Linked DNA regions of Homo sapiens. The protein of the gene in region 3 interacts with the protein of the main gene of each other region in a pairwise test. Each region holds a gene or a part of one and is shown on either strand. Other genes may lie near its edges. The genes, in order: PLIN3, SYPL1, TARS2 and ASB6.

What was found.
Region 1: the proteins of TARS2 (region 3) and PLIN3 interact in binary tests that used the Homo sapiens proteins (3 or more experiments, as listed by UniProt).
Region 2: the proteins of TARS2 (region 3) and SYPL1 interact in binary tests that used the Homo sapiens proteins (3 or more experiments, as listed by UniProt).
Region 4: the proteins of TARS2 (region 3) and ASB6 interact in binary tests that used the Homo sapiens proteins (3 or more experiments, as listed by UniProt).

What each region holds. Positions count from the first base shown.
Region 1 is NC_000019.10:4,850,640-4,857,670, reverse strand, and holds part of PLIN3 (perilipin-3), read left to right. Parts: intron 1-5,369; coding exon 5,370-5,655; intron 5,656-7,031. UniProt on the Homo sapiens protein: Structural component of lipid droplets, which is required for the formation and maintenance of lipid storage droplets. Required for the transport of mannose 6-phosphate receptors (MPR) from endosomes to the trans-Golgi network.
Region 2 is NC_000007.14:106,095,287-106,102,317, reverse strand, and holds part of SYPL1 (synaptophysin-like protein 1), read left to right. Parts: intron 1-3,035; coding exon 3,036-3,160; intron 3,161-4,420; coding exon 4,421-4,628; intron 4,629-7,031.
Region 3 is NC_000001.11:150,490,416-150,497,446, forward strand, and holds part of TARS2 (threonine--tRNA ligase, mitochondrial), read left to right. Parts: intron 1-185; coding exon 186-310; intron 311-978; coding exon 979-1,096; intron 1,097-1,182; coding exon 1,183-1,247; intron 1,248-1,929; exon of another isoform or gene 1,930-1,995; coding exon 1,996-2,074; intron 2,075-6,066; coding exon 6,067-6,213; intron 6,214-6,394; coding exon 6,395-6,493; intron 6,494-7,031. UniProt on the Homo sapiens protein: Catalyzes the attachment of threonine to tRNA(Thr) in a two-step reaction: threonine is first activated by ATP to form Thr-AMP and then transferred to the acceptor end of tRNA(Thr). Also edits incorrectly charged tRNA(Thr) via its editing domain.
Region 4 is NC_000009.12:129,634,103-129,639,180, reverse strand, and holds the end of ASB6 (ankyrin repeat and SOCS box protein 6), read left to right. Parts: intron 1-521; coding exon 522-608; intron 609-723; coding exon 724-1,391; 3' UTR 1,392-3,716; coding exon of another isoform or gene 3,717-3,973; 3' UTR 3,974-4,576; downstream 4,577-5,078. Other genes in the region: NTMT1 (N-terminal Xaa-Pro-Lys N-methyltransferase 1), read right to left, coding at 3,717-3,973, 4,875-5,078. UniProt on the Homo sapiens protein: Probable substrate-recognition component of a SCF-like ECS (Elongin-Cullin-SOCS-box protein) E3 ubiquitin-protein ligase complex which mediates the ubiquitination and subsequent proteasomal degradation of target proteins.

The DNA.
Region 1 (7,031 bases), on a different chromosome or scaffold from region 3:
GAATGGCAATGCTGACCTGGGGTTAACACCTGAAGGCCCAGAACAGCACATGGCTTGTAGCAAATGTTGGCTCTTAACATTAAAAAAAAAAATTTTTTTTTTGAGACAGGTTCTCACTCTGTCACCCAGGGTGGGGTGCAGTAGTGTGATCATGGCTCAACTGCAGCCTTGAACTCCTGGGCTCAAGTGATCCTCCCATCTCAGCTTCCCAAGTAGCTGGGACCACAGGCATGCACCACCATGCCTGGCTATTTTTAATTTTTTGTAGAGACGAGTTTTCACCATGTTGCCCAGGCTGTTCTCAGACTCCTGGGCTCAACAGATCCTCCTGCCTCAGCCTCCTGAGTAGCTGGGACTAGGTGCATCCACCACGCCTGGCTAATTTTTGTACTTTTTGTCAAGACGGAGTCTCGCCATATTGCCCAGGCCGGTCTCCAACTCTTGGGCTCAAGCAATCCTCCTGCCTCAGCCCCACAAAGTGCTAGAATTATAGGAGTGTGCCACTGTGCCCTACCTCAGTTTCCCTTAATCACCGCTTTTTAAAGACCCTGTCTCTAAATACAGCCACATTCTTACCCCTGGGGATCAGGACTTCAACATAAGAATTTGGGGTTGAGGGGGCCATAATTCAACCTATAACAGCCTGGGATGAAAAAATGAGGCACAGACCAGGCGTGGTGGCTCACGCCTTACTCCCAGCACTTTGGGAGGCCGAAGCGTGCAGATCACTTGAGATCAGGAGTACGAGACCAGCCTGGCCAACATGGTGAAACCCTGTGTCTACTAAAAATTCAAAAATCAGCCAGGCGTGATGGTGAGTTCCTATAATCTCAGCTACTCGGGAGGCTGAGGCACGAGTATCACTTGAACCTGGGAGGCAAGAGGTTGCAGTGAGCCGAGATCGTGCCACCACGCTCCAGCCTGGGCAACAGAGCAAGGCTCTGTCTCAAAAAAAAAAAAAAAAACACCCTCCTTCAGATAAGTGTGAGGCTTAATCGGTTATTGTTTGTCTCCCCAGCTGGGACCAGGGCACAGGCTGCCTGCTTTGTGGCTGTGTCCAGTGCCCAGCAGGCAGCCTGGCACAGGGTAGATGCTTATTTTTTTAGTTTTTTGAGACAGAGTGTTGCTCTTGTTGCCCAGGCTGGAGTGCAATGGTGCGATCTCGGCTCACTGCAACCTCCGCCTCTCGGGCTCAAGCGATTCTCCTGCCTCAGCCTCCCGAGTAGCTGGGATTACAGGCATGCACCACCATGCCTGGGTAATTTTATCTTTTTAGTAGAGATGGGGTTTCTCCATGTTGGTCAGGCTGGTCTCGAACTCCCAACCTCAGGTGATCTGCCTGCCTCGGCCTCCCAAAGTGCTGGGATTACAGGTGTGAGCCACCGCGCCCTGCAGATAGATGCTTATTAAGTATTCAGGTGCTCCATGTCCGCTTCAGCCCAGTGGTTACAGAAGGGCCACCCTCGGGTACCACCTGCTTGTGTCTGGGTCTGTAGCATCAGAAATAGGTGATCCCTGGGTTGGAGGCAGGACAAGCCAGCCGCATCCCAGCATCCTTGGACTTTCCCTGAGACCACCTGCAGGGACAGGCAGCTTATTCATCCACTTGCTATTGAGTGCCTACTGTATGCCGGGGAGCTGTGCTGTCCCATCATGGTTAGACTTCCTCACCTCCCATTTATGCAGAAATGGCCTTAGCTGGGAAACAGCAGAGCGGTTGTCAACTTGCATTTTTTTTTTTTTTTTGAGACAAGGTCTTGCTCTGTAGCCCAAGCTAGAGTGCAGTGGCGTGATCTTGGCTCACTACAGCCTTGACCTCCTAGACTTAGGCAATCCTCCCAGCTCTCAGCCTCCTGAGAAGCTGGGACTACAGGTGTGCACCACCACACCTGACTAATTTTTTAATTTTTTGTAGGAATGGGGTCTTGCTATATTGCCCAGGCTGGTCTCAAACTCCCAGGCTAGCCAGGCACGGTGGCTCACGCCTGTAATCCCAGCACTTTGGGAGGCCGAGGCGGGCGGATCACGAGATCAGAACAACAGAGCGAGACTCCATCTCAGAAACAAAACAAAAAACAAACTCCTGGGCTCAAGCAATCCTCCTGCCTGCCTTGGCTTCCCAAAGTGCTGGGATTATAGTTGTGAGCCACTATGCCCAGCCATGCCTACACCTTATCAGCAAAGGCCAATAGTGGGCTTGGCTGAGGGGGGATGGAAACTGCTGAGCTTACAGGAAGATGGGAAACGTCAACCAGGAGCCCCCGTCTCAGGGCCAAGCCCTTGCTTCCCTTTCTCTCCCACTGATAGCGTAGGAGGCCAACAGTCTTTCTGTTTATAGAAGGGATAAGCTCAGGGTGAATTCTTCAAGGTCACTGAACAGAGCAGCAGCTGGGAGCTTTTTTTTTTTTTTTTTTTTTTTTTCAGATGGAGTCTCGTTCTGTTGCCCAGGCTGGAATGCAGTGGCGTGATCTCAGCCCACTGCAACCTCTGCCTCCTGGGTTCAAGTGATCCTCCTGCCTCAGCCTCCCAAGTAGCTGGGATTATAGGCGCCCATCACTACGCCCAGCAAATTTTTGTATTTTTAGTAGAGATGGGGTTTCACCATGTTGGCCAGGCTGGTCTCGAACTCCTGACCTCAGGTGATCCAGCTGCCTTGGCCTCCCAAAGTGCTGGGATTATAGGCGTGAGTCACCGTGCCCGGCCAATTTTTGTATTTTTTGTAGAGGTGAGGTCTTACTATGTTGCCCAGGCTGTTCTCACACTTCTGGGCCCAAGCGATCCTCCCACCTCAGCCTCCCAAAGTGCCGGGATGACAGGTGTGAGCCACCGTGCCTGGCCTGCTGTGAGCTCTTGACTTTTTGAGAGGTGCAATGCTCTCTCAATTCTGGGCCCTATGAGTTTTTTCCCCCTTTGTGAAGAGGTAACTTTCCCCAGGTTCTGGGGGACGGTGGTGTTGTCAGAGCTAGATTTTAATCCGGGCCAGTGTGAGAACGTGCGTGTTCACTGAGTAGTGGGGCTGTTAGAACCTGACTCTCATCGGGGGCGTTGGCTCATGCTGGCTCACACAGTGAAACCCCGTCTCTACTAAAAATACAAAAAATTAGCCGGCCGTGGCAGTGCACGCCTGTAGTCCCAGCTGCTGGGGAGGCTGAGGCAGGAGAACCGCTTGAACCTGGGAGGTGGAGGTTGCGGTGAGCCGAGATAGTGCCACTGCACTCCAGCCTGGGTGACAAGAGCAAAAACTCTGTAAAAAAAAACAAAAACAAAAACAAAAAACTTGACTCTCACACCCTCTTCCCCCACAAAAAGATGAACTCTCATGAGTACAAGAGGACTGAGTCTTCAGGGAAGCACCAACTTGGGTAGGAATGGGGCAGGTGTGGTTTTCAACTTTGCGGAGAGCCCTCTGCATAGAGATCTGTCTAAAGACTTAGCTTCAGCTGGACACAGTGGCTCATGTCGGTCATCCCAGCACTTTGGGAGGCCAAAGCAGGAGGACTGCTTGAGGCCAGGAGTTCGAAACCAGCCTGGGCAACATGGAGAGTCCTTGTCTCTACAAAAAATAAAAAAATAAGCCGGGTGTGGTGGTGCGTACCTGTAGTCTCAGCTACTTGGGAGGCTGAGGTGGGAGGATCGCTGGAGCCGAAGAGGTCAAGGCTTGAGTAAGCTATGATTGCACCACTGCACTCCAGCCTGAGTGACACAGTGAGACCCTGTCTCAAAAGAAAAAAAAAAAAAAGACTTAGATTCGAGAACAGCAGGTATTGACAGATGAGCGCTCACCATGTGCTGGGTGGGGCGTAGTCAAAGGATTCCATGCAAAGCTTTTTTTTGTTTGTTTGTTTTTGTTTTTTTTTGGAGACAGAGTCTCTCTCTGTCACCCAGGGTGGAGTGCAGTGGTGCAGTCTCGGCTCACTGCAAACTCCACCTCCCGGGTTCAAGGGATTCTCCCGCCTCAGCCTCTTGAGTAGTAAGGATTACAGACATGCACCACTGCACCCGGCTAATTTTTTGTATTTTTTGTCTCTACAAAAAATAAAAAATAAGGCTGGGCGCAGTGGCTCATGCTTGTAATCCCAGCACTTTGGGAGGCCCAGGCAAGTGGATCCCCTGATGTCAGGAGTTCAAGACCAGCCTGGCCAACATGGTGAAACCCGTCTCTACTAAAAATACAAAAATCGGCTCGGCATGGTGGCATGTGCTTGTAATCCCAGCTACTTGGGAGGCTGAGGCAGGAGAATCACCTGAACCCACGTGGCAGAGGTTGCAGTGAATCGAGATTGCACCATTGCACTCTAGCCTGGGCAACAAGAGTGAAACTCCGCCTCAAAAAAATTAATAAATAAATAAAAATAAAAGATAAAAAATAGCCACGAGTGGTGGTACGTGCCTGTGGTCACAGCTACTCGCTGGGGAAGCTGAGGTGGGAGGCTCACTTGAGCCCAGGAGGTGGAGTTTGTAGTGAGCCGAGATTGTGCCACCGCACTCCACCTGGGTGACAGAGGGAGACTCCATCTCAAAAGAAAAAAAATTAAATTGAAAAAAAAAAACAAAAAACAGGCAGAGTGCAGTGGCTCATGCCTGTAATCCTAGCACTTTGGGAGGCTGAGGTGGGCGGATCACTAGGTCAGGAGTTTGAGACCAGCCTGACCAACATGGTGAAACCCCATCTCTACTAAAAATACAAAATTAGCCTGGCGTGGTGGCGCATGCCTGTAATCCCAGCTACTCGGGAGGCTGAGGCAGGAGAATCGCTTGAACCCAGGAGGCGGAGGTTACAGTGAGCCGAGATCACACAATTGCACTCCAGCCTGGGCAACGAGAGTGAAACTCCATCTCAACAACAGCAACAACAAAAAACAATTAGCCAGGCATGGTGGCGGGCACCTGTAATCCCAGCTGCTTCGGAGGCTGAGGCAGGAGAACTGCTTGAACCCGGGAGACAGAGGTTGCAGTGATCTGAGATGGTGTCACTGCACTCCAGCCTGGGCAAGAGAGCAAGACCCTGTCTCCAAAAAAAAAAAAGAAAGAAAGAAATGAGGTACAGGGAGGTAGAGTGACTTTCCTGAAGCCACACAGCTGAGAAGTAGCTAGCTAGGAACGGAGCCTAGGTAGTCTGGCTGCAGAGTATGAGGTCATGCCCACAACTCCAGACTCAGGGTCACCTGGGGGATGGCGCTCCCTGCCTCAGTCTCCCTGGAAGTTGGGGTGCAGGGGAGGGGTGCCCACATACAGAGGGAAGACGGAGATGCTGGGGTCACCCGGGGGATGGCGCTCCCCGCCTCGGTCTCCCTGGAAGTTGGGGTGCAGGGGAGGGGTGCCCAGATATGGAGGGAAGGCAGAGATGCTGATGCTGTTGCATCTCCTAGGTCCTGGCGGACACCAAGGAGCTTGTGTCGTCTAAGGTGTCGGGGGCCCAAGAGATGGTGTCTAGCGCCAAGGACACGGTGGCCACCCAATTGTCGGAGGCGGTGGACGCGACCCGCGGTGCTGTGCAGAGCGGCGTGGACAAGACAAAGTCCGTAGTGACCGGCGGCGTCCAATCGGTCATGGGCTCCCGCTTGGGCCAGATGGTGTTGAGTGGGGTCGACACGGTGCTGGGGAAGTCGGAGGAGTGGGCGGACAACCACCTGCCCCTTACGGATGCCGAACTGGGTAAGTGTGGCCAGCGGGCTGCTCTGGGACCCCTCCCCAGGCCCCCTGACCGGAAGCCGCTGTCGGCCTCCTGGGGTCTGTGCCGACACTCACTGCCGCCTCGTCCCTGCCACTTCTCCCGGGCATCTTGGAATCTCATCACTAACGCAGTCCCCTCTGTCCTGCTCACCAGCTCCCGCCCTCATCCACCACAGTCTCCTCCCCACAGCAGCCACCAGAGGGCGCCTGTGACCACCTGAGTCAGAACCCGTCCCTCTGCCCACAGCCCTCCATGGACCCCACCTCCCCTGGGGTCAAAGCCCAAGTCCTCGTCACAGCCCACAAGGTCCTGCACAACCTCCCCTGTCCTCTCCCCGCCCTCCTCCTCTTCCCCCTTCGCCACTCCGCTCCTGCATAAATACGTGACTAAACTTGAGATCTCACTGAACTGTGACAACAATGCTGGTGTTCCCGCCAGGCCAGACATCCCACTCCAGTCATCTCGGTCACATATTCGCACTCCCTGCACTGTTTATTTGATATTCTTCTTTAATTAATTTATTTATTTATTTAGAGACAGAGTCTCGCCCTGTCACCTAGGCTGGAGTGCAATGGCGTGATCTCAGCTCACTGCAACCTCTGCCTCCTGGGTTCAAGCGAGTCTCCTGCCTCATCCTCCTGAGTAGCTGGGATTACAGGCACCTGCCACCACACAGCTAATTTTTTGTATTTTTAGTAGAAACGGGGTTTCACTATGTTGGCCAGGCTGGTCTCGAACTCCTGACCTTGTGATCTGCCCACCTCGGCCTCCCCAAGTACTGGGATTACAGGTGTGAGCCACCATGCCCGGCCCTTTTTTATTTATTTGTTTTAGAGATAGAGTCTCACTCTCTTGCCCAGGCTGAAGTGCAGTGGTGCGATCATAGCTCAATGCAGCCTCCAACTCCTGGGTTGAGGCGAGCCTCCCATCTCAGCCTCCGAGTAGCTGGGACTACAAGCACACACCATCACGCCCAACTAATTTTTCTTTATTTAATTTTTGGTAAAGACGGGGTCTCCCTCTGTCATCCCAGCTGATCCAGAACTCCTTGGCTGGAGTGATCCTACTGCTTTAGCCCCCCAAAGTGCGGGGATTGGGATTTTTGCAAATAAGTAGCTTAGGATATAGGCAGGGCGCGGTGGCTCAGCCTGTAATCCCAGCACTTTGGTGGGCCGAGGTGGGCAGATCACCTGAAGTCAAGAGTTTGAGACAAGCCTGGCCAACATGGTGAAACCCGGTCTCTACTAAAAATACAAAAATTAGGCCGGGCACGGTGGGTCACGCCTGTAATCCCAGCACTTTGGGAGGCCAAGGCCGGGCGGATCACAGGTTCAGGAGATCGAGACCATCCTGGCTA
Region 2 (7,031 bases), on a different chromosome or scaffold from region 3:
TCGAGACTGGCCTTACCAACATGGTGAAACCCCGTCTCTACCGAAAATACAAAAATTAGCCGGGCATGGTGGCAGGCACCTGTAATTACCCCTGCTACTCAGGAGGCTGAGGAAGGAGAATTCCTTGAATCTGGGAGGTGGAGGTTGCAGTGAGCCAAGATTGCACCATTGCACTCCAGCCTGGGTGACAGAGCGAGACTGTGTCTCAAAAAAAAAAAAAAGTTGTAATCTTTTTATAACTGAGTCTCAGAAAAGACATCCCATTTCTTCTACAGTACCATATTCTATTCTGTAGAAGCAAGTCACTACATTTAGTTGACACTCAAGGGAAGGGAAATCAGGCTCCATCTCTTGATGGGAGTTGTATCAAAGAGTTTGTGGGCATATCTTTAAAACCACCACATTCCTTTCCTCCGTGATCTACAAATCAACTCTGTTAGATACAATTTGTCTTATACACACTAGTCTATTCCTGGCCTTTTTATTCTGCTCCATTGGTTCAATTTGTGTATCTCATTTCTTTTCTTTTTTTTTTTTTTTAATTTAAACGTGGGTATATGCTCAGGACTCATTTTCTGGCCTTTTCACTCTGTGTATTCATGCATATTTATTCTGAGAGAGTATTGATTCTTCCATCTTTACCTTCTTTTTTAACATAAAACATTATTTAGTACAAATAATGAAAAATGATTTCATGACACATTTTCCAAGGAAAGTTACTTTTACATATTTTGAAATCCTGTAAAAACTGGGGATCACCTCTTAACAGTTAAGACCCCAAACTATGTGCTGGACATTACCTCAGACTCTTCCTATCTGTAACCAGATTCTTTTCATGTATCTTTTTTGTGGGGGGGGGGGGGGGGGGGGGGGGGGGGGCGGATGGGAAAAAACAAACCCTTGACAATTACTATAATGTGGATTATGGCCTACAAGATTCAAGGCCCTGGAATAATCCATGGGAAGCATTATGTCAAGTGTTCCACAGTGAATATTTGATATCAAATCTGCATTGAATATTATCTACTACCAGTTGCTGAGTGTGTGTGACCTTGAACAAAACGAAGCCCCTGACCTCTTCAAGTTTCTATTCTAGGGAAAGACAGACAAATTAAGTACTGTGTCAAGCAGTGGTAATTAGAACAGAGCAGAAATAGAGTAGAGGGAATAGGTAGTGCGGGGTAGGAGTGCTGTTATTTGATATAGTGTGGTGAGGGGAAGGTCTCTCTGAGAAGGTCATACTGGAACAGGAAGCTATGGAAGTGAGGGAGTGAAGCATGTATTCCAGGCAGAGGAAATAGCCAGTGCAAAGGTCCTGAAGGAAGAGTTTATCCCGTGTCATTAAAGGTATCGCATGGAAAGCAGTTTGTGTATACAGATTAGGTAAAGGAAAAAGTAGCAACATGAGGTCAGAAATATAAGGGAAGAAAGGATCTTGCAGGCCTTTATATGAACTTTGGTTTTTATTCATAGAGAGCTCAAAAGCCATTGGAGGGTTTTGAGCAAAGGATAACATTTTCTGCCTTACATTTTTAAAAGATTGTCTTGGCTGTTGTGTTGATAACAGACTGAAGCTGGGGCAAGGGCAGAAGCAGAGAGATCATTTAGAAGGCTGTTAGTGCAAAATTCAGGCAAAAGGTGATGGTAGTTCAGATCAGGAGGCAGTACAAGTGGTCAGATTGCAAATGTATTTTGAAAATAGAGCCATCACCACTTGCTGAAAGATTGAGCTCCTGGACTTTAACAGCGCATCTGGAATTTTTTGCTTACTTGTGTTGTTTTGTAGAAAATTCACAAGTACAAAAATAAAAAGGAATTATTTATCTTCCTTTGAGAGGTGACCAGTGTTAAAATTTTGATGCATAACCTTTCTAGTTTTTGTTGTTTAAATCTACTTTGTATGTAATGAACACTTTCTATGTTGTTAATCTCCAACATTCTATGTTGTTAATTTCCAACAGCTATATAATGTTTCATTGCATGAATGAATGAATGGATGAATTATAGTTTGATTCCCTGTCAACATTTAGGTTGCTTCTAGGTTTTTTGTGTTTTAGATGGTATTTGAGAGAACACCATTCATTTTTTTAAGCATATACATGATTAGGAAAATAAGTTTCCAACAACTTTTTGAGACCTGGAAATACCCACAAGGGAGGTTTAACAGGCTCATGAAATAGTGTCTCTTCTCTGCTGACAACCTCTTGGCTTTACAAATTACTGGTAACTTGTGTTCCAAATAAAAATACCTCCAATTCACCCCTTTTGATTTTATACTAATAAATGAGTCTCCCTCTATATTTCATACTAATACTTAGTGGATACACTAAAGTATGAGCAAATGAATTGTCATATGGGCTGGTACATTTATTTCTATATTATACTCCGGGGAAAATAAAATCACATTTGTCGAGGTTTGCAAATGAATGTTTTAATGTCTTTCACCATCTTAGTTTGTGTTTAAGAATTTCTAGAATGTAGCCAGGCATGGTGGCACACTCCTTAGTCCCAGCTACTTGGGAGGATCACTTGAGAGTTCAGGGCTGCAGTAAGCTATGATTGTGCCACTACACTTGAGTCTATACAACAGAGTGAGACTCATCTCTTTAAAAAAGGGTAGTGGGGGCTGGGCACAGTGACTCACACCTGTAATCCCAGCATTTTGGGAGGCCAAGATGGGAGGATTGCTTGAGTTCAGGAGTTCAAGCCCAATCTGAGCAACATAGCGAGGCCTCATCTCTACTAAAATTCAAAGAAAAATTAGCCAGGTGTGGTGATGCACACCTGTGATCCAGCTGCTTGGGGGACTGAGGTGGGAGGATCACTTGAGCCTGGGAGGCCAAGGCTGCAGTGAGCCCTGATCGTGCCAGTGTACTCCAGTCTGGGCGACAGAAACCCTGTCTCAAAAAAAGAATTTCTAGAATGTTAGCCAATTTTTAATAATCAGTGTGCTTACAGTTTTAGTGACCCTTGTTTTGGTTGTAGTATTGCTTATCTTTTTTTTCTTTTGTCTTTTTTCATCTTACTTTGTGTAGATTGCTTCTATCTTTGCTTTTGCCACCTGTGGAGGTTTTAAGGGCCAAACAGAAATTCAAGTGAATTGTCCTCCTGCAGTTACTGAGAATAAAACTGTTACAGCTACTTTTGGTTATCCATTCAGGTGAGTTATATTTATTTTAATGGTTTCACAACTCTTTTTACTTTCACAGTGAGTCATTAAGATTTCCAGCAATTTATTGATTGTGGGGGGTAGAAAATTTTAGACTGTATGCTCATTTGTAAGTGATCATTACCTCCCAAACTGTGGTACACAGACCCATGCCTGTCTAAAAACATCTCCTGATCTGTGACAAAATAGTACAGAAAGTGAGAGTAAGCATTTAGAAACTTTTATAACAATGTGATGTTGCCTTGATAATTTTATTCTAACAGAGGATTGGAAATGTAAAAATAAAGCAAACTAGAGATTGTTCTATCACCTTAGTATAAGAAGCCCTAATGTAGAAGGAAACATAACTTAGAAAAATCCAGATTCTCAGTGTTTTTTGTAATTGCTGAATATTAATGTCTTTATATAGTTTTAAGACATATGTATATAAAGAGATTCCATATTTCATTCATTAGCATAAAGCCACACTTTCTTAAAGTAAAATGAGTATTTCATCTGTGAAGTCTTGTTTGACATCAGTATCCATTGAAAAGTTTATTGAATATGTCCTGTGTTTAAGCCAGGGTGGGAATCTTCTTTCACTTACTAATTTTACTTACTTCACCCAAGACTCAATTTTTTGGTCCAGTAATTGGAAGTATTATCTTGTAAGGCTGTTTTGATGATTAAATAAAATCCCCATATTAAAGATAAGTCAGATAATAAGTGGTTAATCATCAAAGCCTCTCTATCTTGTATCCTTTCTCCTAGACACTTCTCACATAAGGGACTGTTACAGCATCTTTAGTGACAAGTTTTTTACAATTTATGGTTGGGAAAAATGAAAGGCAATATTTATTGTTAGCAACTATTGATCCAGGGTTAAAAATGTGAATCATTGTTGTGATTGGCTCTCTTGGGGCTAGTCACACATACTCTGCCACACAGAATGAAATATGATGTCTCAAAGTATAAACCATTTGGTATAATCTCTCCTACCTAATTGTTTACTGCAGGAAGATAGTATCTGGGTATGAAAGTATTTAATTCAGTCTATATTCAATGTATCATAAACTAATACCAGGTATAACATATACATTTATTATGAAAATTTCAGTTTACTTAAATATAATATTTGAATTTTACTTTTTTCCCCAAAGGAATGTTTTTAATATATTTGGGGAGTATTTTTTGAAGTGTCACTCATTGTTTTGCTTAAATGTTTCTGTCTCTGTTGGGAAAGTCCAATAATTCATACATTTATTTTAATAGGTTGAATGAGGCATCATTTCAGCCACCTCCAGGTGTAAACATATGTGATGTAAATTGGAAAGATTACGTCCTCATAGGCGATTACTCTTCTTCTGCACAATTCTATGTTACCTTTGCAGTCTTTGTGTTCCTGTACTGCATTGCTGCCCTTCTGCTTTATGTTGGCTACACGAGTCTGTATCTGGATAGTCGTAAACTTCCTATGATAGTAAGTAATCACTTTATTTTTTAAATACAAAAATAATTTGTATAAGCTAAATATAGATTTTCTTATACTGGAAATAAAAATTCTTGGTGTAAGCCAGTTCAGCATATTTTAGCCTGTGTTTGCCACGAGGTTGAGCTTTCTCCCATTAAGTTTAACTCAATTTTTTTTAGCCTATTTGCACTATAAGGAAAGTTTATTTCTTTTTTAAATCTATTTTAACTTGGAAAAAACTCAGATATGTAATAAAGCACATCAGGTTACAAATAGCAAAAAAATTAAGTCGAAATTCTTTTAATTTGAAGAATTACTTATCACAACATAGTCTCATAACTCTTTCTGCTTCTTACTTTTTTTCTTTCTCTAAAGGCCCACTTTATACTTCTACAAAACTTATTGAGTTTAATTATATCATGGGTTCACAAACTATGTCCCAGAGGTCACTGTCTTATTTTTTATTTTTACTTCTTTATTTATATATTTACTTTTTGAGACAAGGTCTCGCTTTGTCGCCCAGGCAGGAGGGCAGTAGCACCATCTTGGCTTGCTGCAGCCTCAACCTCCTGGGCTCAAATGATCCTCCTGAGTAGCTGGGACTACAGTCACAAGCCACCATACTCAGTTACTTTTTGTGTATTTTTGTAAAGACGAAGTTTTACCATGTTGCCCAGGCTGGTCTCAAACTCCTGGGCTCAAGTGATCTGCCTGCCTTGGCCTCCCAAAGTGCTGGGGGTTATAGGTGTGGCCAGGAGCCTGGCCTTGTTTTTTTAAATAAAGGTTTTTTTTGGAACTCAGCCATACACAATCATTTACACATTGCCTATGGCTGCTTTCACACTGCAATGGTAAAGTTGAGTAGTTGTAACAGAGATAAAAAATAGTTGCTATTTGGCCCTTTTCAAAAGAAGTTTGTTGATTCCTGGTCTATGTCCCTAAACTCCTTAATTTAAAATCAGACCCAGGTAATTCTTATACTCAGCATTAGTGGCAACCATGAACTAATTTTGAATCTTTGAGGTATCAACAAAGGACTTAGATTTGAAGTCCTATACTTTTGGCTTCAGAGCCTACTGAGCTAGAAATATTCTCTGAGATTTAGTTAGTAGAATCTGCCCTGGATTATTGGTGGCAAATCCAGAGAGAAATCATGGTTTTAAGCTACACCTCCACTATAAAAGAGTAACTACAAAGTCAGTTATTAGTGACTTAAAGGGAAAACAGAGGTGTTTTTTATGTGTGATACTGGTCATTCATATGTATGAGAAAACACATCTGCTAATTATTTGTGAAGTTACTTTAAAGGGAAGGCTATTTAAATATGAAGGATTATTAAATAACATTACAAGTTTTATTTACATATTTATTTTTAATTTTGCTGCTGGATCATAAGAATGGAAATGGTAAGTAATACAACAGTCTTTTATCATTCATATTTAATTCTGTTTCTTATGTCATAGGAGACACAAGAAAACTAGAGGTTTTCATAAAATACTTCTCGGTTGTTAAAAAGATAAGACGTCAACTGTTTTAATTTGCAGTGCTTATCCAACATACTTGTTAGGAATCTGTGTCTTCTGCAGACTTTTCAAATCTTATTTAAAAGGGAACTGGAATAATCTTATAGATAATTATATTTTGTTAAAATTCTTTATAACTAGAAGCTATTTCTTGCCATTTTGTCATCCCAACAAATTTTTTTACTAAATCTATCAGTGTGCCCTTTATTTCTCATATTTTGTCTAGTAAACTTTTAAAAATACTACCCTTCTTAAAGCAGCATTCCAATCTATTTTTGTAGGTGGTTTTTGTCTGATAAAACTATAAAACTGACCTAGTTGCATCATTCAGAAACGTAAAAAGTAATTTTCCACCTCAGAATGACCAATTAGTGGTCATATAAAGAGATAATCCAAAATTCCTTAAGTAGGTTTTTATTGTTACATAATGGGTGCTTCTTGTCTATAAAAGTCTAGCTTCTAAATTTAATTTTCAGTTCTATTTTTAATGTAACCATAAAAATATTAAAAGATTTTCTTTGAGAGACTGGGTGCAGTGGGTCATGCCTGTAATCCCAGCACTTTGGGAGGCCGAGGTGGGTGGATCACTCCAGGAGGTCAGGAGTTCGAGACCAGCCTGGCCAACATGGTGAAACCCCATCTCTGCTAAAAATACAAAAATTAGCTGGACATGGTGGTGGGCACCTGTAATCCCAGCTACTGGGAGGCTGAGGCAGGAGAATCGCTTGAACCCAGGAGGTGGAGGTTACAGTGAGCCAAGATCACACCACTGTATTCCAGCCTAGGTGACAGAGCAAGACTCCATCTCAGGGGAAAAAAAAAAAAAGGTTTTTTTTGAGATACCCAAAATTTAAGATATAGCCAAATATGACATTAATTTTTAGGTACT
Region 3 (7,031 bases):
GCCTTTTTTTTTAAGCTTGTTACTTTTTAGTGGTCACCCCCAAAATCTAGGATCCCCATTTTGTGGTAGTTATTCCTAGAAGAACCATACCGGCTTTCCTACCAGCTTTTGTGAGGAAGAGCTCAGAGATCTAGGGGTTAAGGGAGAAGTTTATGAACTTGTGAACCCCTTTTTTGTGAACCCAGGTGTTCTGGCACTCCAGCACCCATGTCCTGGGGGCAGCAGCTGAACAATTCCTAGGTGCTGTTCTCTGCAGAGGTCCAAGTACAGAATATGGCTTTTACCATGATTTCTTCCTGGGAAAGGAGAGGTGAGTAATGAAAGGAAGGAGGAGAATGATTCTGGGATGGTTTCTGAGGCTCTTTTCAGGGGCCTTGGGCATGCTCCATTTGGATGAGGAAGCTGGAGGAGAAGGGTTTCTCTAGGTCTCAACTATGACATTAGTATCTCCTTCTGTGCTAGTCCATGTCCCTCTTCTAACTTTGCTTGAAATTTACCTTCTTGGCTGGTGCACATGTAGTCCCAGCTACTTGGGAGGCTGAGGTGGAAGGATCACTTGAGCCTGGGAGGTTGAGGCTGTGGTGAGCCATGATCTTAACCACTGCACCCAACTTGTGTGACACAGCAAGACACTTTCTCAAAAAAAAAACAAAAAGAAAAAGAAGAAACAACTTACTTTGTTACTTGTTAGCTTTCATAAATTCAAGTTTTACTTAATCGCCCTCATTACTATTGTTCTAACTTTGTCTATCCAGATTTCCTGCATTCAACTTTTAACTTCATGCATAGAGCTTTTTCTCCAGCTGTAATATCTGTTACCTGATATCCTATTTATATTTTCTCTGAGTTTGTCTGTCTTTGCCTATAACTCTAGATTTCTCTTGAAGGACAGGACCTTACCCGCTAGCCAACAGGTGTGTCACCCAGGTGATTGATGCACCTCATAGGATGCAACCCAACCAATTCTCCTCTTTCCAGGACAATCCGGGGCTCAGAGCTGCCTGTTTTGGAGCGGATTTGCCAGGAACTTACAGCTGCTGCTCGACCCTTCCGGAGGCTAGAGGCTTCACGGGATCAGCTTCGCCAGTTGTTCAAGGTGGGGTGGAGGGAAGAGGTGGCTCTTCCAGGACATCTTTGTGGGAATAAACACTTTTCTTCAATCTCCCTTCTACCTTTTTCCAGGATAACCCCTTTAAGCTTCACTTGATTGAGGAGAAAGTGACAGGTCCAACAGCAACAGTATATGGGTAAGAGTTGTCAAGATTAAGGCAAACAGAGAGGTGGGGAAGCATTGAAGAAGGCCAGAAATGCGATAAGGGAAGAAAGATAGAAGGTAATTTGTGTTGCTCCAGAAAAAGAAATGGGAATGGGAATTGATTTTTTTTTTTTCTTTTTTTGAGACGGAGTCTTGGTCTGTCTCCCAGGCTGGAGTGCGGTAGCACGATCTCGGCTCACTGCAACCTCCGCCTCCTGGGTTCAAGTGATTCTCCTGCCTTAGCCTCCAGAGTGGCTGGGATTACAGGCATGTGCCACCATGCCTGGCTAGTTTTTTTTTTTTTTTTTTTTTTTGAGATGAAGTCTTGTTCTGTCACCCAGGCTGGAATGCAGTGGCGCGATCTCGGCTCACTGCATCTCTGCCTCCCGGGTTCAAACAATTCTTCTGCCTCAGCCTCCCGAGTAGCTGGAACTACAGGCATGCACCACCATGCCTAGCTAATTTTTATATTTTTAGTAGAGACGGGGTTTCACCATATTGTCCAGGCTGGTCTCGAACTCCTGACCACGTGATCCACCCACCTTGGCCTCCCAAAGTTCTGGGATTATAGACATGAGCCACCGCGCCCTGCCAGGGAATTGATTTTTATCTGCCATTGCCCTCTCTCAGTAGGACAGTTCCTTTCTCTTCACCTCTTCTGTCAGCTAAAGACCATGAGAGGGAGAAAGCTAGAAGCTGAAGATTCTGAAAATCACTAACTGGCCTCTTCTTTCTCCTAGGTGTGGCACATTGGTTGACCTTTGCCAGGGCCCCCACCTTCGGCATACTGGACAGATTGGAGGACTGAAGCTGCTATCGGTCAGTTGTGGGACAGAGTTAGGTTAAGATTCCTATTTTGAGCCGGGCATGGTGGCTCACGCTTGTAATCCCAGCACTTTGGGAGGCTGAGGCAGATGGATCATAAAGTCAGGAGTTTGAGACCAGCCTGGCCAATATGGTGAAACCCCGTCTCTACTAAAAATACAAAAATTAGCTGGGTGTGGTGGCACACACCTGTAGTCCTAGCTGCTCGGGAGGCTGAGACAGGAGAGTTGCCTGAACCTGGGAGGCGGAGGTTGTAGTGAGCCGAGACTGCACTACTGCACTCCAGCCTGGGCAACAGAGCGAGAGTCCATCTCAAAAAAAAAAAAAAAAAAATTCCTGGTTTCACTGGGATGAGCAGGAGAATCGGAAGGTGATACTTTCTGTCGGCACCCCCCTTTTTTTTTTTTGAGACCAAGTCTCTCGGTCGCCCAGGCTGGAGTGCAGTGGCGCGATCTTGGCTCACTGCAAGCTTCGCCTCCTGGATTCAAGCAATTCTCCTGCTTCAGCCTCCCGAGTAGCTGGGATAATAGGTGTGCACCACCATGCCCAGCTACTTTTTGTATTTTTAGTAGAGACAGGGTTTCACCATGTTGGCCAGGGTGATCTCAAGTGATCTTCCCTTCTCAGCCTCCCAAAGTGCTGGGATTACAGGCATGAGCCACTGAGCCTGGCCCTGTACTCTCATAAGCTGAGCGGGGAATACAGGAGAAAGAAACTTTGTCCCCACATTCTAAAAACCCGTTTGATGGCACACACTGGACAGCCTGCTAGGGCCCAGAAGCCAATTCAGATGCCCTAATATGATGTCAGTATTAAGGGGGGTGGAGGGGTGGAGCAGGAGGGTGTGAGCAAGCTGGATGGGTCATACAGGGAAGGGTTGTAGAGAGAGGGGGCGTGGTCCAGGAGGAAGATGAACACCATTTGACAGGCACAGGGAAAATACCTTTAGTAAAGGGCATGCTTTTTATGAAAATACCGTTCTGCATGGTGGCTCACGCCTATAATCCCAGCACTTTGGGAAGCCGAGGTGGGTGGACCACCTGAGGTCGGGAGTTCAAGACCGGCCTGACCAACATGGAGAAACCCCGTCTCTACTAAAAATACAAAATTAACTGGGCGTGGTGGCACATGCCTGTAATCCCAGCTACTTGTGAGGCTGAGGCAGGAGAATCACTTGAACCTGGGAGGTGGAGGTTGTGGCGATCCAAGATCGTGCCATTGCACTCTAGCCTGGGCAACAAGAGCAAAACTCCGTCTCAAAAAAAAAAAAAAGAAAAGAAAATACTGTTCTGGACAAGAAGAGTTACTAGATGGAATGGGATGAGTTACAAGGGAGCAAGGGGAAATGCAGATGTGTAGAGCAAAAAGCTCTGAACTTAGACTGGGCATGGTGGCTCATGCCTATAATCCCAGCACTTTGGGAGGCCAAGGTGGGTGGATCACTTGAGATCAGCCTGGCCAACATGGCAAAACCCCATGGCGCGGTGGCCTTGGGTAAATCTTACTTATTTTCCCCATCTATAAAATGAGGCTATTAATTCCTTTTTGTCCTACCAGTAAATTCACCTCATAAAGATAATGAAAACCAGGCCAGGCATGGTGGCTCACACCTGTAATCCCAGCACTTTGGGGAGGGTGAGGCAGGCGGATCACTTGAGGTCAGGAGTTCGAGACCAGCCTGGCCAACATGGTGAAACCCTGTCTCTACTAAAAATACACAAATTAGCTGGGTGTGCTGGCCTACGCCTGTAATCCCAGCTACAAAAAAGGCTGAGGCAGGAGAGTCACTTGAACTCTGCCAGGAGGCAGAGGTTGCAGTGAGCTGAGATTGTGCCACTGCATTCCAGCCTGGGCCACGGAGCGAGACAACATCTCAAAAAAAAAAAAAAAAAAAAAGATAATGAAAACCAACTAATTCAGGAAAAAGGAAAAGTTAAAAAGTGCTGTAAAATACAGACTGTCGGCCAGGTGCGGTGGTTCACACGTGTAATCCCAACACTTTGGGAGGCCAAGTTGGGCGGATCACTTGAGCTCAGGAGTTCAAGACCAGCCTGGCCAACATGGTGAAACCTCGTCACTACTAAAAATAAAAAATTAGCTGGGCGTGGTGGCATGCACCTGTAGTCCCAGCTACTCGGGAGGCTGAGGCAGGAGAATTGCTTGAACTGGGAGGCAGAGGTTGCAGTGAGCCAAGATTGCACCACTGCACTCCAGCCTGGGCAACAGAGTGAGACTCTGTTTCAAAAAATATACATATAGGGGCTGGGCGTGGTGGCTCACGCCTGTAATCCTAACACTTTGGGAGGCTGAGGCGAGTGAATCACGAGGTCCAGAGATCGAGACCATCCTGGCTAACACCGTGAAACCCCGTCTCTACTAAAAATACAAAAAATTAGCCAGGTGTGGCCGGGCGCAGTGGCTCACGCCTGTAATCCCATCACTTTGGGAGGCTGAGGCAGGCGGATCATGAGGTCAGGAGATCGAGACCATCCTGGCTAACACGGTGAAACCCTGTCTACTAAAAATACAAAAAATTAGCTGGGCGAGGTGGCGGGCGCCTGTAGTCCCAGCTACTTGGGAGGCTGAGGCAGGAGAATGGCGTGAACCCTGGGGGGTGGAGCCTGCAGTGAGCCAAGATCACGCCACTGCACTCCAGCCTGGGCGACAGCGAGACTCCGTCTCAAAAAAAGAAAAAAAAAATTAGTCGAGTGTGGTGGTGGTGGCCTGTAGTCCCAGCTACTTGGGAGGCTGAGGCAGGAGAATGGCGTGAACCTGGGAGGCGGAGCTTGCAGTGAGCCGAGATCGCGCCACTGCACTCCAGCCTGGGTGACAGATGTATATACACACACACACACACGTATAGACTGTTTCTCATTAGTACTGTTTAACAGTTTTATTTTATTTCATTTTTATTTTTTTGAGACAGAGTCTTGCTCTGTTGCCCAGGCTGGAGTGCAGTGGCCTGATCTCGGCTCACTGCAACCTCTGCCTGCCAGGTTCAAGCAATTCTCCTGCCTCAGCCTCCTGAGTAGCTGGGTTACAGGCACGTGCCACCACACCTGGCTAATTTTTGTATTTTTAGTACAGACAAGGTTTCACCATGTTGGTCAGGCTGGTCTTGAACTCTTGACCTTGTGATCCACCCACCTCAGCCCCCCAAAGTGCTGGGATTACAGGTGTGAGCCACTGCGCCCGGCCTCTCATTAGTACTTTTTTGTTTGTTTGTTTGTTTGTTATTTTTTGAGATGGAGTCTTGCTCTGTCGCCCAGGCTGGAGTGCAGTGGTGCGATCGCGACTCACTGCTAGCTCCACCTTCCGGGTTCATGCCATTGTCCTGCCTCAGCCTCCCGAGTAGCTGCGACTACAGGCACCCACCACCACACCCAGTTAATTTTTTTGTATTTTTAGTAGAGACGGGGTTTCACCATGTTAGCCAGGATGGTCTCGATCTCCTGACCTCGTGATCCGCCCGCCTCGGCCTCCCAAAGTGCTGGGATTACAGGCGTGAGCCACCGCGCCCGGCTCATTAGTACTGTTAAAGGAGAGAGCAGGCAGAGGCTTTTGGATTTCATGTGGCCAGGAATGGGATATGGTATAGAAGACTGACTTTTCTAGCAGCTGTATAGGATATTGATAAATGGAGGAATAGACTGACATTTGACCAGAGCTTATGGTTATTCCTCTAAGCAGTCATTGATTAGAATGGGAAGGAACTAAGTAAAGGGGTAATGAGAATGGGGAGAAAAAGAGATGGCAAGGTAAGGTTAGGCCTGACCAGGTTGTATGTAGGAATTAAGAGTCAGGCAATTTCAACACTTTAATCTAGAAGAATGGTGTCTAGAGGATGGAGGTGTTCATCCTACTGGTGGGATTGTTGTCAAGAGGCATACCTGTGACACTTAACACTGAGAGTATCATTTGAGTCTTGAAAAAGGTGGGGGCCTTCAGTCCTCATCTTTCCTTTGATCCCCTATGTCCTCACACAGAACTCATCATCCTTATGGAGGTCTTCAGGGGCCCCAGAGACACTGCAGAGAGTGTCAGGGATTTCCTTCCCCACAACAGAATTGCTGAGGGTCTGGGAAGCATGGAGGGAGGAAGCAGAATTGCGGGACCACCGGCGCATTGGGAAGGTACAGGAATTGGGAAGATAGGGAGGGATGGTGATAAGGGTTGGAGAGAGATGACAGAACCTGATTATGAAATTGGGAGCAGATTCAGTCACACAGACTGAGCAGCTCCGTCAGTTGTTCTGAGTTCCAAAGCCACCTCCTTGCCCTTGAGGTGACCCAATATTGCTATTCCTGACCCCAGGAACAGGAGCTCTTCTTCTTCCATGAACTGAGCCCTGGGAGCTGCTTCTTCCTGCCACGAGGGACAAGGGTGTATAATGCACTAGTGGCGTTTATCAGGGTAAGGGGACCCAGGTCTAGAGGAAAGAAGACCAGGGAGGGGCTGAGGGACTAGAAGAAGCTAAGGTGTTTGTGTTAAAAGATGGGGGTTGGGGCCGGGCACAGTGGCTCACATCTATAATCCTAGCACTTTCGGAGGCTGAGCCGTGCAGATCACCTGAGGTCAGGAGTTCGAGACCAGCCTGGCCAACATGGCAAAACCCTGTCTCTACTAAAATAAATACAAAAAATTAGCCAGTGTGGTGGCAGCGCCTGTAGTCCCAGCTACTGGGGAGGCTGAGGCAGGAGAATCCCTTGAACCCAGGAAGGGGAGGTTGCAGTGAACTGAGATTGAGCCACTGCACTCCAGCCTGTGTGATACAGTGAGACTCCGTCTTGAAGAGAAAAAAAAAGGTGGGGGGGCTGGTTTGGAATCATAAACATAAATATTGAAAGTGCTGGTGACCTTTAATACTACAATTGTGTGGTCTGCAGTCGGGGAGCATAGAGATGGGACCTGGTATTTAATAGGTTGTGGTTGCAATCAGCATGGCCTGAGG
Region 4 (5,078 bases), on a different chromosome or scaffold from region 3:
GCAGGACAGCTGGGCCCCCAGGCACCTTGTGGGGGACACCCAGGGTGCCCCAGGACAACAGCTAGGTGGGCAGACTGGATGCTGGCCCTGGCTGGTGGCACAGCATGGCTGGGCACACAGGGATTCTGCTGACTTGCTGAGCTCAGAGGCTTCAGAGAGGCAGTGCAGTCATTGTCCCTGTGCTGGCCCTCAAGGGCCTTCTATAGGAAGAAATAGGGCATGTGTGCACTTAGTTTCCAAGAAACAATGGCTTCCCATTGGGAGAGGCCCAGCCAACATCTCAGGTAGCATCTTGGGGTCCAGAAAAATCCTACCTTTCCTGGCCTTTCCGCTCCCACTTCTCTGGGTGGAAAGGGAATGGCCAGAAGCCTGTCACCCTCAGCCCTCACCTGAGCTGAGAGTTGTCTCTGAAAGTTCATCTTCTGATCCTCTGAGTGTCTGGATTTCTGCCACCTCCTCTGGGTTGCCCTGACCTGGGCTTCCTGGCCTCCTGCTCCTCCTTGCTCTCCCTCCCTCCCTAGGAAAAACTGCTCTGCTCCATGCTCTGGCCAGCAGCGACGGGGTGCAGATCCACAATACTGAGAACATTCGTCTCTTACTGGAAGGAGGTGAGGCTGGCGCGCTCCTAGGCCTCGTCCTCTCACCCGCCCCTTCGATGTGTGCTGTTGCTTTGCCAGGGTTGAAGGCCTTCTCCCAGCATCTCTTGTTCTATGGCTCTTCTAGGGGCAGACGTCAAGGCCACCACCAAAGATGGGGACACAGTGTTCACCTGCATCATCTTCCTGCTTGGTGAGACCGTGGGAGGGGACAAAGAGGAGGCCCAGATGATCAACCGCTTCTGCTTCCAAGTCACACGGCTGCTGCTGGCACACGGGGCCGACCCCAGCGAGTGCCCAGCCCACGAGTCCCTCACCCACATCTGCCTGAAGAGCTTTAAACTGCACTTCCCTCTCCTGCGCTTCCTCCTGGAGTCCGGAGCCGCCTACAACTGCTCCCTGCACGGTGCGTCCTGCTGGTCTGGCTTTCACATCATCTTTGAGAGGCTCTGTTCCCACCCAGGCTGCACGGAAGACGAGAGCCATGCGGACCTCCTGCGCAAAGCTGAGACTGTCCTGGATCTCATGGTGACCAACTCTCAGAAACTCCAGCTGCCCGAAAACTTCGATATCCACCCTGTGGGCAGCCTGGCGGAAAAGATCCAGGCCCTCCACTTCTCCTTGAGGCAGCTGGAGAGCTATCCCCCGCCCCTCAAGCACCTGTGCCGTGTGGCCATCCGGCTCTACCTTCAGCCGTGGCCTGTGGATGTGAAGGTCAAAGCCCTGCCTCTGCCCGACAGGCTGAAGTGGTACCTCCTTAGCGAGCACAGTGGCTCCGTGGAAGATGACATCTGATAGGTCTCAGGCTACAGGAACGGGGGACACGGGCAGCTCAGGTCAGCCTGTTGGTAGATGCTGGGACAGCATTAGAAGAGGGTCTTTTTGATCTGGGAGATGAGACGGGATCCTTCATGAGAAAAGCCAGCCAGGTAGAGCCTGAAGCTGTGATCACTCCAGTGGTGAAGGGTGCAGCTCTGGTTCTTCCAGAGAGACTGCCCCCTTCCCTCCAGCGGCACTCCAAGTCCCCCCCATGTTGGAAAGAGGAACAGGGCTTGGATTGATGTTTATACCCTCTGAATTGGAGGGCAGTGCCAGGGCATTTGCAGAAGCTGGGAAGGACCAAGCCTCAGCACCCCAGGGCTGCGGGGCTCTTGTTGGCCGCACGTGGCAGTGCAGCTGGAGAGGAAGCCTGGGGCACGTCCTGTGCGGTGCCACCAAGGCCCCACCCCTGCCCCTTTTCCTTCCAGGTTCTGTTACTCACAGAAGTGTTTCTGGTGGGCTCTGCGGGAGAAGACACTAAGGGCCCCACAGGCTTGTTTCATGGTGTTGCAAGCCAAGCTGGCCCCTGCCTGTTCCTGTAGCTCTGGGGCCAGGTCAGCCGTGGCCCCACCTACCAGAACTGTGCTCTGCTGGCAGCTGTGCTTTTGCCAAACCCAGGGCCTCAGCGACCATGACTTCTGCTAAAAAGCAATCATGAGTGCGTGGCTGGGGACAGACCTCTCTGAAGTGTCTCCTGTTGTGAGGGGCTCACTTTGGAGCCACTGAAGAGCCGACTGTGCCACCCACTTGCGAGCCTCAGTCCCTTCCAAGCTGCACTGGTCATTGGGAATTGTGTAAACACCTCTGGGGATAAGCTGAGGTGACTAAATGATATATTTATATTATAAGATTAAACTGACTTTCTTGGCCTTAACAAGGTCCTTATATAAAATTTCCACCCCGCCCCTCCATAGTTCAGGATAGAGGCTCCCACAGCAGCCGGTAAGGAAGTGGGTGGCAGGTGTGAGGGGATGCTGTGTTTGGGGGGTTGTTTCCAAGTCCCTGCAAAGAAGCACCACTCTAGACTGGCAAGGGCCTCCACAGTGTGGAGGTCCCATTTTATTATTTTTTTTTTTCGAGACACTCTGTCACCCAGGCTGGAGTGCAATGGTGCAATCTCGGCTCACTGCGACCTCTGCCTCCCAGGTTCAAGCAGTTCTCCTGCCTCAGCCTCCTGAGTAGCTGGCATTATAGGTGCCCACCACCATGCCTGGCTGATTTTTGTATTTTTAGTAGAGACGGGGTTTCGCCATGTTGGTCAGGCTGGTCTCAAACTCCTGACCTCAGGTGATTCGCCTGCCTCGGCCTTTCAAAGTGCTGGGATTACAGACATGAGCCACTGTGCCCGGCCCCCATTTTATTTTAGTTTTATTTTGAGACAGAGTCTCGCTCTGTCACCTAGGCTGGAGTGCAGTGGCGCAATCTCACCTCACTGCAAGCTCTGCCTCCCGGGCTCACCCCATTCTCCTGCCTCAGCCTCCTGAGTAGCTGGGACTACAGGCGCCCGCCATCACGCCTGGCTAATTTTTTTTTTTTTTGTATTTTAAGTAGAGACGGGGTTTCACCTGTTAGCCAGGATGGTCTCAATCTCCTGACCTCGTGATCTGCCCGCCTCGGCCTCCCAAAGTGCTGGGATTACAGGCGTGAGCCACCGCGCCCAGCCCCATTTTATTTTTTACTTTAAATGCCTGCCAAGGAGCAGCCTCAAGCCCAGAGAAGACTGAGGCTACGGGGAACTTCCCTTGCTGCAGGCTGTTGTAACACTTTAAGGGCCCCAGGTCTCCACTGCCAAGCAGGACTTGGCACATGAGCACCCACCCCACAGCACCATCAGGCAGCACCCATGGGCTCCACCAGCCCAGCTCTGTCCCTCCCCTAGGTAAAGATCACACTGAAGTCTTCAAGTCCCCAGCAACCAAGTTGGGGGTGGTTTCCTTCCTCTTCAGGCAGCCAGGCCCATGGCTGGAAGGCCGGGCTGGAGGCCCAGGGAATCGGTTACTGATGTGGCCACCCTATTCCCACATGGGGAGCACCAGGAGCCCTGGAGCCCCTTCCACCCAATCCCATCTCGCAGGAGAGCAGGGTCTGGGCTCCTGCCTCACCGCTGGTTCAGCAGCACCCTCCCCGCCGGGTCCCACCTTGCCTTTTGAAGAAGAGCCCGCATAATGAGTGGACGGCAGACAGCTATATTTAGTGGTGCCTCGACACTCACGAACCGCCAGCGTGGCGCCTGGATCTTGCCCAGCTGCCAGCTCCCCCCACCAGGACTGTGGTTCCTCAGTTTCTCCTGCCAGCCCCGGCTCATCTCAGGGCAAAGCTATAGACATGGTAGATCTCATCGGGGAGGTTCTCCTGCCTCTCCTCGGCCAGGAGGCTGAGGCCTGCACTGCAGATGATCCTGCGGACCACGTCAAGGTCCCGGCACACGCTGCTGTCCACGTCGTCCAGAATCACGCCCTCCTGGGCCATGTTGTCTTTGATGACGATGATGCCGTTGGGGCGGAGGCTGCCCTTGCAGCGCCGCAGGAACTCGGCCAGGTGCTGATCGGTGAGGTGGCCTGGGGAGGGCAGAGGCAAGGTTACCAGGGCACCATGCAAGCGGATGTCGGCACTGGATGGGATGTACTTCTCAGCCCCGCTGAGCCCCTCATTTGTGCCCAGCATTTTGTGTGCACACATGGCCTCATTGGCTCTCAGTCCCGAGAGATTTACTAAACCCCAATTCATAGAATAGGAAACTGTGGCTCAGAGGTCATCTACCTAAAGACACATTAAGCCAGAATTTGACTTGACGGGATGGCTTACAAGTCCTGCCTGATACCTACACACCATGATGCCCCACCCCTGCCAGGCTTGGATCGGAGGAGTGAACCTGGGCTAAGAGTTTGGCATTGCAGGAGCTCCCAGAGAGACTGCCTTCCCTACACTAGAAGTCCCCACAAAGGCTTCTGAGACCACAAAATACAAGGCCAGACCTAGAGTGTCCACAGCAGGCCTGTGCTGCCCGCCTCAGGAGGTGGCCGACTGCTGCTAGCGGCCTGCCGCCACGTCAGCAGCCCAGGGCACAGCGCTCGAGGTGTGCTGTTAGGCTAAGAGGGTGCAGGGCTAGACACGAAGCTTAAACTATTCATCTTATTAAAAATAAAACCCTTATAAAACTCCTCACTTTGAATGCAGTAAGTTATTGGCCATTAAAATTTTTTCAACAAAAAACTGCACCCAAATGGATGGTAGCAGGTATTCAACTGAAACAAAACCTAGAAGGAAGAAATCTACCTTTTAGGCCGAGCCTGTCCCTCAGTCCTGGGAAGTACGGGGTGGGGGTGGGCCTGGGCGGGGTGGGGAATCCTCACTGGCCCACTTGCTGCAGGAGTGCAAAGCCCTGGTCCTGACACCTTATGGGGAACGCGAGTGGCAGGAGACATACAGGTGAGCAGGGAAGGGCGGTGGAACCCTCACCTATCACCCACTGGATCCAGATCACGTCGTAAGAGTCCGGCTCCGGGGTGAAGTCCTGGAGCCCACAACAGAAGTAGTTCCTCACCCTCTTGCCCTCCTCCCCCAGGTAGGTCTTGGCTTGAACCAGGAAGTCCTCCGTTATGTCGACCATATCCACCTCTCTGAACAGCGGCAGGAGCAGCCGCTTGGTGATCCTCCCAATGC